Linked DNA regions of Homo sapiens: regions 2 and 3 are each linked to region 1. The links come from fine-mapping of genetic effects on gene expression. A gene starts in region 1. Each other region holds a variant in brackets. All regions are shown on one strand. Distances are between the middles of the regions. Region 1 holds the start of ERO1A (endoplasmic reticulum oxidoreductase 1 alpha). Region 2 overlaps DDHD1 (DDHD domain containing 1). Region 3 overlaps GPR137C (G protein-coupled receptor 137C).

Evidence for each region. PIP is the estimated chance that this variant, and not a neighbour inherited with it, causes the effect. A credible set is the group of variants that fine-mapping cannot tell apart.
Region 2: its variant is the best candidate, but not a certain one, in a credible set for the expression of ERO1A in whole blood (INTERVAL, PIP 0.78).
Region 3: its variant is the best candidate, but not a certain one, in a credible set for the expression of ERO1A in fibroblasts (GTEx, PIP 0.50).

The regions. Positions count from the first base shown.
Region 1 is chr14:52,693,354-52,697,709 of GRCh38, reverse strand. ERO1A (endoplasmic reticulum oxidoreductase 1 alpha) reads left to right here and starts at 2,152. Exons shown (of 16, transcript NM_014584.3): 1 at 2,152-2,342. The coding sequence starts at 2,229. RefSeq lists a silencer at 1,681-2,220 and enhancers at 2,471-2,520, 2,126-2,627.
Region 2 is chr14:53,051,121-53,055,120 of GRCh38, reverse strand. DDHD1 (DDHD domain containing 1) reads left to right here. Exons shown (of 13, transcript NM_001160148.2): 11 at 492-683; 12 at 3,194-3,277. Among named protein-coding and RNA genes, the nearest start is that of DDHD1, 100 kb to the left of the region's middle. The variant C/T (reference allele first, on the strand shown) is at 2,398.
Region 3 is chr14:52,606,175-52,610,530 of GRCh38, reverse strand. The region is part of intron 3 of GPR137C (G protein-coupled receptor 137C); the gene reads right to left. Among named protein-coding and RNA genes, the nearest start is that of GPR137C, 56 kb to the right of the region's middle. The variant C/A (reference allele first, on the strand shown) is at 2,535.

The DNA of each region.
Region 1 (4,356 bases):
CCTGGCGACAGAGTGAGAATCTATCTCAAAAAAAAAAAAAAAAAGAAAAAGAAAAAAAAAAAAAAAAGCTTTCAGGTTAGGAGGGAGATTGTATTAATATGTACATGTGACATGTTGTAGATACTAGAATTAGAGCTTCTCAGGTCCATCAGGATCTCAGATGGGTTGTTGACTTTTACTACATGTCTACTTGGCAGTGATAGGCAGAGCTCTAGGGTTTGCAGTAAAATACATGAGTTTAAGTCATTTGAACTATTTCAACTTTTAATGTGCATGCAAGATGTCGGAAAGCTGCCAGTTTCACCTAGAAACTACCTTCTTAGGCTTGGTGAAGTGGCTCACACCTGTAATCCCAGCACTTTGGGAGGCAGAGGCAGGCAGATCACTTAAGGTCAGGAGTTCGAGACCAGCCTGGCCAACATGGTGAAACCACATGTCTACTAAAAATACAAAAGTTAGCTGGGTATGGTGGCGCAGGCCTGTAATCCCAGCTACTCGGGTAGCTGAGGCGTAAGAATCACTTAAACCCGGGAAGCGGAGGTTGCAGTGACCCGAGATTGCGCCACTGCACTCCAGCCTGGGTGAGGAAGTGAGAGTGTCTCAAAAAAAAGTCTTCTTAAAACAACAAACAAACAAACAAACAAAAAACAAAAAGTAAGGCCAGGTGCGGTGGCTCATGTCTGCAATTCTAGCACTTTGGGAGGCTGAGATGGGTGGGTCACCTGAGCTCAGAGCTAGAGACCAGCCTGGCCAACATGGCAAAACCCCTTCTCTACTGAAAATACAAAAATTAGCCGAGTGTGTGGTGGCTTACGCCTGTAATCCCAGCTACTGGGGAAGCTCAGGCAGGAGAATCTCTTGAACCTGGGAGGCAGAGATTGCAGTAAGCCAAGATGACGCCACTGCACTCCAGCCTGGGCGACAGAGCGAGACTCCGCCTCGAAAAAAAAAAAAAAAGTAATCCCAGCACTTTGGGAGGCTGAGGCGGGAGAATCGCTCTTGAGGAGTTTGAGACCAGCCTGGGCAACATGGTGAAACCTCGTTTCTACTAAAAATAAAATTAGCCAGGCGTGGTGGCGCACGCCTGTAGTTCATGCTACTCAGGAGGCTTAGGTGGGAGGATCGCTTGAGCCCAGGAGTTCGAGGTTGCAGTGAGCTGCGATCGCATCATTGCAGGCCAGCCTGGGTGACCCAGGGAGACCCTGTCTGGAAAAAAAAAAAGCGGATAGACTAGTCCCAACTCTGAATGTTAAAAGACCAGGACTGGGTATCAGAGGACCTCCAATCCTTGCTCACCTTACCTCACTTCTCTAGGCCTGTTTCTTCCTATGATATGAGCGGGTGGCTTCCACCCTCGCTGTCTAATACAGTGGGCACTAGCCAGCCACATTTGACTATGAAATGGGTCTAGTTCGCATCGAATACACACTGGATTTCAAAGACAAAAAAAGTCAAATATCTTATGAATAAATTTAATGTTGGTTATATTTTGAAATAATATTTTGCACATTCGGGGTTAAATAAAAATATTTTAAAAATAAAATGTACCTGTTATTTTTACTCTTTTGCTGTGGCTACTAAAAATATAAATGACATATGCTGCCCTGGTCTAGATGCTCTCTAATATCCCTTTCAGCTTTAAGACTCCGCCGGGAACACGGTGGACACGTAATTCGTACGATTTGATTGTCTCGCATTGAGATACGGAAGGATTGGCCGGGAGTGAGCGGGCTGGGGCTGGGCGGGGCGGCGCGGGGCGGGCACCCCCCGCCCCCCAACCCCGCAGGAAAACACAGGCCCCTCCGGCTTTCGCTCTCGCTCTGGGAACTGGAAGGACCCCCGACTCCCGCGCAGGGTCTGGGGTTGTGCGCGTCGGGTTGCGTCTCCAGGCCGGGGGCGTCAGGGAGCCGGGGGCGGGGACGGGCGCGGGCGCAGCGGACCGGGCGGGGCCGAGCCGGGAAGCTGGTCGGTGCGTCAGCCTCACGCGGCGGGAAGGAACCGGTCCGAGGCCCCGGGCTGCCGGCGCGGGCGCCGCGGCACGTCCACAGGCTGGGTCGCGAGGTGGCGATCGCTGAGAGGCAGGAGGGCCGAGGCGGGCCTGGGAGGCGGCCCGGAGGTGGGGCGCCGCTGGGGCCGGCCCGCACGGGCTTCATCTGAGGGCGCACGGCCCGCGACCGAGCGTGCGGACTGGCCTCCCAAGCGTGGGGCGACAAGCTGCCGGAGCTGCAATGGGCCGCGGCTGGGGATTCTTGTTTGGCCTCCTGGGCGCCGTGTGGCTGCTCAGCTCGGGCCACGGAGAGGAGCAGCCCCCGGAGACAGCGGCACAGAGGTGCTTCTGCCAGGTGAGCGATGTGCGCGTTGGTGCTGAGGGTCCCGGCGCCCTCCGCGGCGTGCACTGTCCCGCACGCCCTGGCGGGTGAGCGGCTGGGGGTGCGTCCTTGCATCTCTTCCCACCGGGAATGAGACTCCGGTGCTGCTGCCCGGTGGCCGGGACTGAGTCTGGCTTGGCGTGGACCGGGCCTCCACGGCAGCCTGGACGTCGCCGCGCCCTCCGGTGCCTCGGACCAGGAGAGGGGTTGGGTGCACGCGGTTGAGTGGGTTTATGCATCTTTGTTGGTCTTATCTGCCCGGGGAGAGTGTGCACAGTGTATAATGCCCTGCCAGTATTTGCTATTTTCACAGAACCTGGATCTTTCTCACTTCTCTCTTGACCAGGAACTTGTGTACCCAGTACCTGTGCTGCGTGCATTTCGCCAGCCTTTCTGGCTAAGACGTTTGTGGGCTGATCTCAGATTTCGATGTTAGGCGGAAGAATGGCTGCTTGCGGTTTTTCTGTGTGTAAGCCCAACTACCTGATGTCTTTGGGACTGCAGTTGCCCTCTGGTTTCTGGTCCTGTGTGCTCTTTTTCTCGAATGTAATGAGATTCTCTTATCGTGACACCCGTTAAGCTGGTACGAATTGGGAGGAAGGTCCTTATTCTTCAGTGCACAAGTTTAATTACAAGCGGATTATGATCATTTCCTTCTGTAAGAGATGTGGTTTCTTGAGCAAAAAATTGAGAGAAACTTACAGTTTTCCATTATCTTCAGTATCTAGTATTTCAATGTGATTACTCTTGTCAAAGCCACTTTTTGGTTGACTCTGTTGATAAAAATTACGTTTTATACAAAATTAAGGGTTAGGCATCCATGTTATTCCTAAGTGGATTTTGCTATTAATTTATTATCAGAAATACCATTTTATGTGTTTAGGGGCATGATACCATGTCAAAGGAAAGATGCATTTAAATATTATGAAAGGTTTCTCTTTCACTACTTTACATTCTTGGATTTTGTTGTTTTGCTGAGTGATTTGGGAGTTGAGGTGAGTGTTATCTAGGAAACTAAGGGAAGTTGAAAGAAAATTGCTACTTTACAACTGAGACATTGAAAAGTCCTTTACCTTCAATCATTACAAAGGACACACAATCAAGTACTTAAAAGGAAAAGGGTCATTTTTCTTCTGATTAGAAATATAACGCAACACCGAGATTAAACATTTAAAAAATAAGATAGAAATAAGTGACTTTAAAATAAAATATTCTTTACGGAAAGAAGATGTCCAATGTAACATTTTCAGCTACATTCTGGAGATTTGGATACTGGAATAAAAGTACATGTTGAACTCTTCAACTTTTACTTTTTTTTTCCTTAATAACCTTTTTGGAGTTCTGCTTAAAATAGAACTTTAAATTCTTTGCATTTATTTTCTTTTTCTTCTAACTAGTGATTAAACTTTTCCTCTTTCACAATACCCTCATATTCAAATACTTCCCTAACATAAAATTCTGTTAAACCCCTTTCTTTTTCTTTTAGAACGAGAGTGGCTATCTGTGTTTCTTTTCAGACTCAACCTTGAAAAATAGTAAATTGGGCTGGGTGTGGTGGCTCCAGCCTGTAATCCCAGCACTTTGGGAGGCTGAGGTGGGAGGATCTCTTGAGTCCAGGAGTTCAAGACCAGCACGGGCAACATAGTGAAACCCCCGTCTCTACAAAAAAAATTAAAAAAAGAAAAAAGCTGGGTGTGATGGTGTGCGCCTGTGGTCTCAGCTACTTGGGACACTGAGGTGGCAGGATGGAGTGAGCCCAGGAGTTCGAGACCAGCTTGGAGACCCGGTCTGTATTAGTCCGGGTTCTCTAGAGGGATAGAACCAATGGAATATATATATAAAGGGAGTTTATTAAGTATTAATTCACATGATCACAAGGTCCCGCAATAGGCTGTCTGCAGGCTGAGGAGCAAGGAGAGCCAGTCTGAGTTCCGAAACTGAAGAACTTGGAGTTTGGTATTTGAGGGCAGGAAGCATCCAGCATGGG
Region 2 (4,000 bases), 360 kb before region 1:
AGTTGCCTTAATGTAAAATACCACAAGGTGGCACTATAAATAGGCTTTATCTCCTGGACTCATTGGCTGTTTTACTTTCTCATGTTAATACATTGTTTATTGATGGCTTTTTCTTACATGTCCATTTAAATTCAGTAGTAAGTATATCAATAGTAAATCTATACTCATGTCAATGGCATGGTTCTTTTATCAAAGACTTTAATCTTGCCAAATATTTTAATAAACCATGATCACTTGAATAAAATAGAATCTTTATTCCTTTGTTTATATATTCCTGTGTTATATTCCTAGAGCTTATACAACTCTCATTCTATTCACCATTTTTATTTAGAAACCTGCAATATAAATTATAATTTTCTTATGTTCCCACCCTGGAAAAACATGACTAGGGTTTGGTCCCTCTGCCAGTTGGCTATAATTATGGGTGGTGCTCTTTAGCTTAGAGTGTGGTGTGATTCAACAGAATGACTACCCTGCTTTGTGAAATACAGGGGCTGCTAGCATTGGAAAGGGACTTGGAGGAATGTTGTTCTCAAGATTTGGACGTTCATCTACAACACAGTCATCTGAAACATCAAAAGACTCAATGGAAGATGAGAAGAAGCCAGTTGCCTCACCTTCTGCTACCACCGTAGGGACACAGACCCTTCCACATAGCAGTTCTGGCTTCCTCGATTCTGCATGTTAGTTCATACATTATTTCCTTAAGTTGATACTGTATCTTTTTAAAACTTGGGGAGGGCAGGGAGGTATAAAATATTAATACTAGCTAGTCAACTCTAAGATCTAAAGTGTGCCTTAACTTTGAAAGAAAAAAATGCTTTCCTTCTGCTTATATTTTTAAGAATAATTTCCAGGAAAATGCAGTTTTACTTTCTGCATTGATGAATTAATAGAATATTAGTAATTAGGGCCTTGTGGCACAAGGTCTTAACCATCAAGCATAAAACAAATCTCTTTAGGGTAAGTACCCCCTGAAGTTTATAAAGTAGATTTTTACTAATGTGATCTTCTCAGTCTCAAAAATCGTGTAATTATTGCTTTAGATCTATGCTGTATCTGGTCTTGAGACTTTAAAAACTGCTATACCAAAGTCATCCTACTTCTATTCAAAGCTTAGAAATTTTATTGGATCTGCTGAATGGCTTCCAATTCTATCCCAGCTACCTAGTGTAAAGCAGATATTGAAAAAATGAGTAAATAAATGGATAGTTATGTTGGACTTAGCATTATATGGATCTTTAAGCTTTCTCCGGTGGACTTAGAAAGTTTGAAATGTTGAGTAGTTGTGAAACACGAATACACTTAGTATATATTTACTTCCAAGAGTCTGAACTTGAACATTATTTTTAGGTGTCTAGTAAAATAAAACTAAAACGTCAAGTCCTATTTTTTCATTGACACCTATAATGAAATATAAATTCTGAAACTAGCTACTCCTTTTCTGTAACTATAGCAGGGAGAAAACTTTTCTTTCTCTAGAAATTTTTAAACAGATTTTATTTGTTACTTAGAGTATTGTGTTCTTACTGTGTCTGCTACTCTAAATTGTAAAATGATGGCATTCATTGCCATCCATCCTTAGAAAGTTCAGGTGTGACACTCCTAGAGGCTGAATAATTCTTCCACAGTCAACTCCACTCCAGGATGAATTATTAATAGGGTTGAACATTCCTACTTGGGCCAACAGCATTTTTAATTTAATTATATCTGTGCCAGACTCTGGACACTGAAAATTTTATAATTGCAAGTCTGGAAAATTCTTTTTTAGACTTTGATATTTGCATTAAATATATTTTACCTTCTATAAGAGTTCTCATACTATTTCTGACTTGTTTCCTTTTCTACTTAATATCAAAAATGTGATTGTGAAAATACAAAATTCTGTCGTGACATGCAGATGTCAAGAAAACTCTAACTGCTGAAGAAAATTAATTTCAAAGAATTTTGTAAGGTAGCAGGTAAAAAGTCATGGTTCTCTGTAATGTCATTAATGTGCAACAGTAGTGCTAGTAAACATCAGAGTGAGGGAGGGAGCAAGAAGAGCAGGGTAGGGTTTAACCCCCTAGAAAAAGGGTAATGAAAACGTATGTATAGAATCTACAGGCTCTGAGGGAATAAAACTTTTTTAGGTTTTTTTTTTCTGTTTAACATAGTAATTTCAAAATAATAGAGAAACCCCCAGTTTTTTCTTCCAGAACAGCAGTTAGTAGAGGTGCATAGCTGTATTGCATCTTTTTATTTTGAGAGCTTAACAAAATACATACTATGTCATTCTTACACATAAATTCTTTGATAGTCCGAATGGTAAAATAGTCAACAAGACTCAATATGAGGTAATTATGAGTCTTACACATATTCACATATTACACATACTTATATATTATACATATTACA[C/T]ATATTCACCTCTAGATATAGATATAACTATTAAAATTGGACTATTATAATAAGATTCTGCCTTTTAAATCCTATTCCCAAGATTTGCTTTACTAATTATTTGGCTTGCTTCAATAATGTAATCTGTGTAATCGTCATAATTTCTCGTCGTTAAGTGCTGTCTTGGCTATATCGTGCAAATCATAAAACTTTTCTTCATTAAATCTTCTTTCTGAAATTTGGTCATTGTGATTAGGTGATTCTGGCTTCCCTCCTTTCTTCCTTCTACTTACATTAATTGCCTCAGTTCTTCTGGATAACCTTTATTCTGAAGCTACCGACTTTGATTCACTTGCTATTTGAGGGTAAAATGGGGCACAGGCTTAGAATTCATGATCTGTCTGTTTCTTTATGTGAAGAACTAGTGTTGTCAATTGAAACCTATTTTATTTTCATCCAGTTGAAGCATCTTACCTAGCTATTCTTCTTTTGAAAAGTCTAGACTTCTTTTCTAACATATAATGCAAAGATCTGTTTCTTTTAGCATTGTTTTGCATCTAGGTTAGGAACTAAATTAGCTATGAATTTGGGGACTATCTGGGTGTTAACAGATTATGAGATTATATTTCAAGTTAGTTATGCTTACATTTTCCATGAAAGAGCTCCTTACAAAAATTAAGATGTGTACTACTTTATGTATGCTAGATTTAGTCAGTTTATTTGGGAGTATTGTTCTAACTTTTGGCCACTACATCATTGAAGGCCATTTTTAATCATCAGCCAACCCTTTACAGCATCTTGTGTTTTTTTTTCACAGATTTCAGACTTCAAGAATCGTTCTTTAATCTCCCACAACTTCTTTTTCCGGAAAATGTAATGCAGAATAAAGATAATGCCCTCGGTATGGTATATGTCAGGAATAGCATTCAGAATACTATAAAAATGATCTACTTAGAGTTCTTCTGCTTATTGAAAAATTGGATCAGTTCTTCTATGAGATCCCAGCTTCAGTGTTACCATTACAGACTATTTTATGTGTATTTTCATCCCATATTTTCTAGTCTTAAATGGTAGTGGTTCTGAAACCTGAAAATTGACTAGCCACTTAATGTGCTAAAGTATATTTGTGTATACTTCTACAAAGAAGGAACCTGAAGAAAAGCATAAGGTCATTTTCTTCCTTCTTTATTGTCCTAAAGGCTCCAAAGAGGTTTGCTATTTCTTTTCATTTAATACATTTAGATATAAAAGGGTTTCTAATAGTACAAAGAATGTCATCATTCTTGGTTATTTCAGGTATCAGTAAATTTACCACTTAGGGTTGTAGGTATGTCATAGCTGATTGCTTTCAACACAGATATTTAATGTAGTTTAGGGGAGTACATTCACTTTTAAAAACAGTATTCTTGGATGTAAGAGATATTTTTAATCTCTTAATTTTCAGTATATTCTAAATGTATCACTATGGATTAACTTTAGCAGTTTAAAATTATTTTTATGACTAACTTCTGATTCTTTTTCCACAGCTTCTCTTTTAAAAAAAAAAATGCTGGATTTTGTCTTTGACAAAACACGTTACAGGGCTTTGTGGGATTTTTTTTCTTTTAATGTTTTAACCAAATCT
Region 3 (4,356 bases), 87 kb after region 1:
AAATTAACAAAATAGTAATAAATGGAATAATTATAACAAAATGCTGTAATAAAAGGTATGTGAATGTGGTCATCTCTCTCTCAATATATTTTATTGTACTGTACTCACCTATTTTCAGACTGAGGTTGACTGCAGTAACTGAAATCGTGGAAAGGAAACCGCAGATAAGGGGAGACTACCCTTGTCTTCACTTCACTAAAATATGCCAGGCATTATTTTAGAAAAGGACTGAAAAATGAATAACACAAATAAGAGAGCTCCTTTCCTGGTTTATACTTTAGCAGGGAGAAGCAGAAAATAACTAAGAAAATAAATGAATAAATAATTTTGGCTACTGATAAATGCTGTGAAGATAACAAAAGAGGGTGACAGATGTAGTAATCAGAATGGGGGATAGTCTTATTTGGGTAGTGAAGAAGAGCAACTTTGAAAAAGCGACTGAGGCCTGAATGCAAAGAAGCCATCACATAGGTACCTGTAGAAAATGCAATTTAGGCAGAGGGAACAATATATACAATACAAAGTCTATATGGCTGGAATAAACTTAGTGTATGTTTTGCGGTGAGAAGTTGGGGCACAAAAAGCCAATGTGGCTAGAAAAGGAAGAGGAGAGTGATAGTGGTAGGGGAATCACAAAAATAGTCAAAGGCCAGGTCTTACATGCCATTGAAGTCATACTGCCTTTGTCTCTTAAGCTCCACCTACTCCTGTGTAAATACCTGCTGGGAGGCACACCCATCTGGGCCACTGGGACAGTTTTCTGGACTTGGGTCCCTGGCCAGCATTCCCACCCAGCCCCGGTACCTTCCTTGTGTCTTCCCCAGATCCATCTGGGCCAGAAATTGGCATCAACTTCCGAGCCCTCACAAGACATGGAGCAAGCCTAGGCTTAGAGCGTCCTCCAGTGCTGAGACAACTGCAGTAGACACAGGCTCAGGAAACACAAGTCAGTCTGTTTAGAATCCCTGGAAGGCCCTCTGAAGAAGGCCAGGCATAAACAAAGCCAGACTGTGAAAACTAAAATAAAAATGTAACCCCTTGGTGTGTAGACACCGTCATACTTCCACAAGCATCAAGAACATTCAGAGAAATATGACCTCATCAAATGGATAAAATAAGGTGCCACTTACCCCAAAGTGATGGAGATGTGAGATCTCTCAAAGAATTTTAAATAGCTGTTTTAAGGAAGGTCAATGAACTTCAGGAAATCACAGAGACTCAAATGAGGAATATATCAAAGAAATTTAATATAGAGATTGAAATAATAAAAACAATCAAACAGAAACTCAGGAGCTGAAAATACACTGAATGAAATGAAAGATGTAATAGGGAGCAACAGCAGAATTGGTTAAACAGAACAATCAGTGAGCTTGAAAACAGACTAGCTGAAAATACACAGGGGAGAAAAAAGAAAAAAAAGAAATGAAGAAAGCTTATGAATCTGTGGGCCAACATAAAAAAGCAAATATTTGGGGTGTTGGAGTTAGGTAGGGAACTGAGAAAGACAGGGGTAGAAAGTTTATTTGAAGAAATAATAACAGAAAACTTCCCAAACCTGGAGAAAGATACAAATATCCAGGTACAGGAAAGTCAAAGGTCACCAATCAGAGTCAGTCCAAGTAAAGATACTCTAAGACATATAATCAAACTCCCAAAGGTGAAAGACAAAGAGAAGATCCTGAAAGCAGCAAGAGTAAAGATGCAAATAACATTTAGGAAAGATCCAATACACCTGGCAGCAGACTTCTCAGCAGAAACATTACGGGCCAGGAGTGAATGGGATGATATATTCAGAGTGCTGATGGAAAAAAAAAAAGCCTTCTAAGAATACTCTATCTAGCAAAGCTATTATTTAGAAGTGAAAGAGAGACTTTCACAAACAAAAACTGGGAATTTATCACCAGAGCTGTCCTACAATAAATGCTAAAGGGAATTTTTTTAAACCACAGGAAAAAGACTGTTAACATGATTGTTACACTAATATTATAATCATGATGCATAAACCACTTATATATTTACTAAGAAGACTAAAAGACAGAAGTATTAAAAATAATGACTACAATTTACCAAGAGACAGGCAATATAAAAATGCAAATTGTGCCATCAAACGTTCAAAATGTGGGGAAGAGAATGGAGCTAATGTGTACAGTGTTCTTTGTTTTCTCTTCTTTTTGTGATCAAAGTTGTTATCAATCTTAAGTAACTTGTTGTTAACTACAGAATATTTTTTGTAAGCCTCATGGTAACCACAAAGCAAAAATCTATAACAGATACACTAAAAATAAAAAGCAATAGATTAAAACATACTGCCAGAGAAATCACTTAACCACAAAAGAAGACAGTAAAAAAGGAAGAAAGGAAGAGAGGAGTTAGAAAAGAAGCAAAAATGGCAGTAAATCCTGACATATCAATAGTAACATTTAGTGTAAATGGATTAAACTGTCTAATTAAAAGATACAGAGTGGCAAAATGGATTAAAAAACATGATCTAACTATATGTTGCCTACAGGAAAATCACTTCACCTGTAAAGACA[C/A]AATACACTGAAAGTGAGGGGATGGAAAAAGATATTCCATGCAAATGGAAACCAAAAAGGAGTAGGAAGAGCTATATTCATATCAGATAAAATAGACCTTGTCTTTTTCTTTTTTTTTTTTTGAGACAGAGTCTCGCTCTGCTGCCCAGGCTGGAGTGCAGTGGTGTGATCTCAGCTCACTGCAACCTCCACCTCCTGTGCTCAAGCGATTCTTGTGCCTCAGCCTCCCAAGCAGCTGGGATTACAGGCATGCGCCACCATGCCCAGCTAATTTTTGTATTTTTACTAGAGACGGGGTTTTGCCATGTTGGCCAGGCTGGTCTTGAACTCCTGAGCCAAGCCATCTGCCCACCTTGGCTTCCTAAAGTGCTGGGATTACAGGCATGAACCACTGCACTTGGCCAGATAAAATAGACTTTAAGTCAAAAATTGTAAAAAGACACAAACGTCATTATACAAAGGTGTCAGTCAACTGAGCAAGAAGACATGACAACAATAAATATATATACATCCAACACCAAGAACACCCAAATATATGAAGCAAATATTAATATTAGCAAAGCTAAAGGGAGAGATAAACTGCAATACAGTAGCAGTAGGGGACTTCAACACCTCACTTTTAGCAACGGACAGATCATCCAGGTGGAAAATCAACAAAGAAACATTGGAGATAAATTATACTCTAAGCCAACTAGCCCTAACAGACATCCATAAAACATTTCATCCAACTGCTGCAGAATGCACATTTTTCTCATCAGTACCTAAAACATTCTCCAGAATAGACCACATGTTAGGCCAGAAAACAAGTCTCAACAAATTAATTAAACAAAGTCAAATCATATCAATATCTTTTCTGGCTGCAACAGAGCAAGACTAGAAATCAGTAACAGGAGGAACTTCTGAAACTGTAAAAATACATGGAAATTAAATAACATGTTCCTGAACGATCAATGGCTCAACGAATAAGTTAAGGAAATTAAAAAATTTCTTGAGAAAAACAAAAATGGAAACACAACATACCAGAAACTATAGGATACAGCAAATGCAGCAGCAAGAGGGAAGTTTATAGAAGTAAATGCCTCCATCAAAAAAATAGAAAGACAAATAAACAATCTAATAATGTATCTCAAGGAAACAGAAAAGCAAGAGCAAGCCAAAGCCAAAATTAGTAGAAGGAAAGAAATAATGAAGATTAAAGCAGAAATAAATGAAATTGAGACTTAAAAAAATACAAAAGAGGAACAAAACAAAAAGTTTGTTTTTTGAAAAAATAAATCAACAAACTTAGCTAGACTAACAAAAAGAGAAGACTCAAATAATTAAAACTAAGGATGAAAAGAGAAACATTAGCAGCCTGGACAACATAGATTCTGTCTACAAAAAATTTAAAAAATTGGCTGGGTGTGGTGGCACATGCCTGTAGTCCCAGCCCTGGGAGTCTGAGGTGGGAGGATCACTTGAGCCTGGGAGGTCCAGGCTGTAGTGAGCTGAGATCACACCATTGCCCACTCCAGCCTGGGTGACACAGCAAGACACTGTCTCAAAGTAAATAAACAAATTTAATTAATAAATAAAAGCACTATTCATGTAAAATAAAAAAGAAAAAGAAAAGGAAACATTATAACAGATACCACAGAAATACAAGAAATCATTAGAGACTATTACGAACTACATGCCAACAAATTAGAAAACCTGGAAGAAATGGATAAGTTCCTGAACACATATAACCTACCATGACTGAATAACGAAGAAAACCTGAATACATCAATAATGAGTAACAGTATTAAAACAGTAATAAAGTCCCCCAACAAAGAAAAAGCAC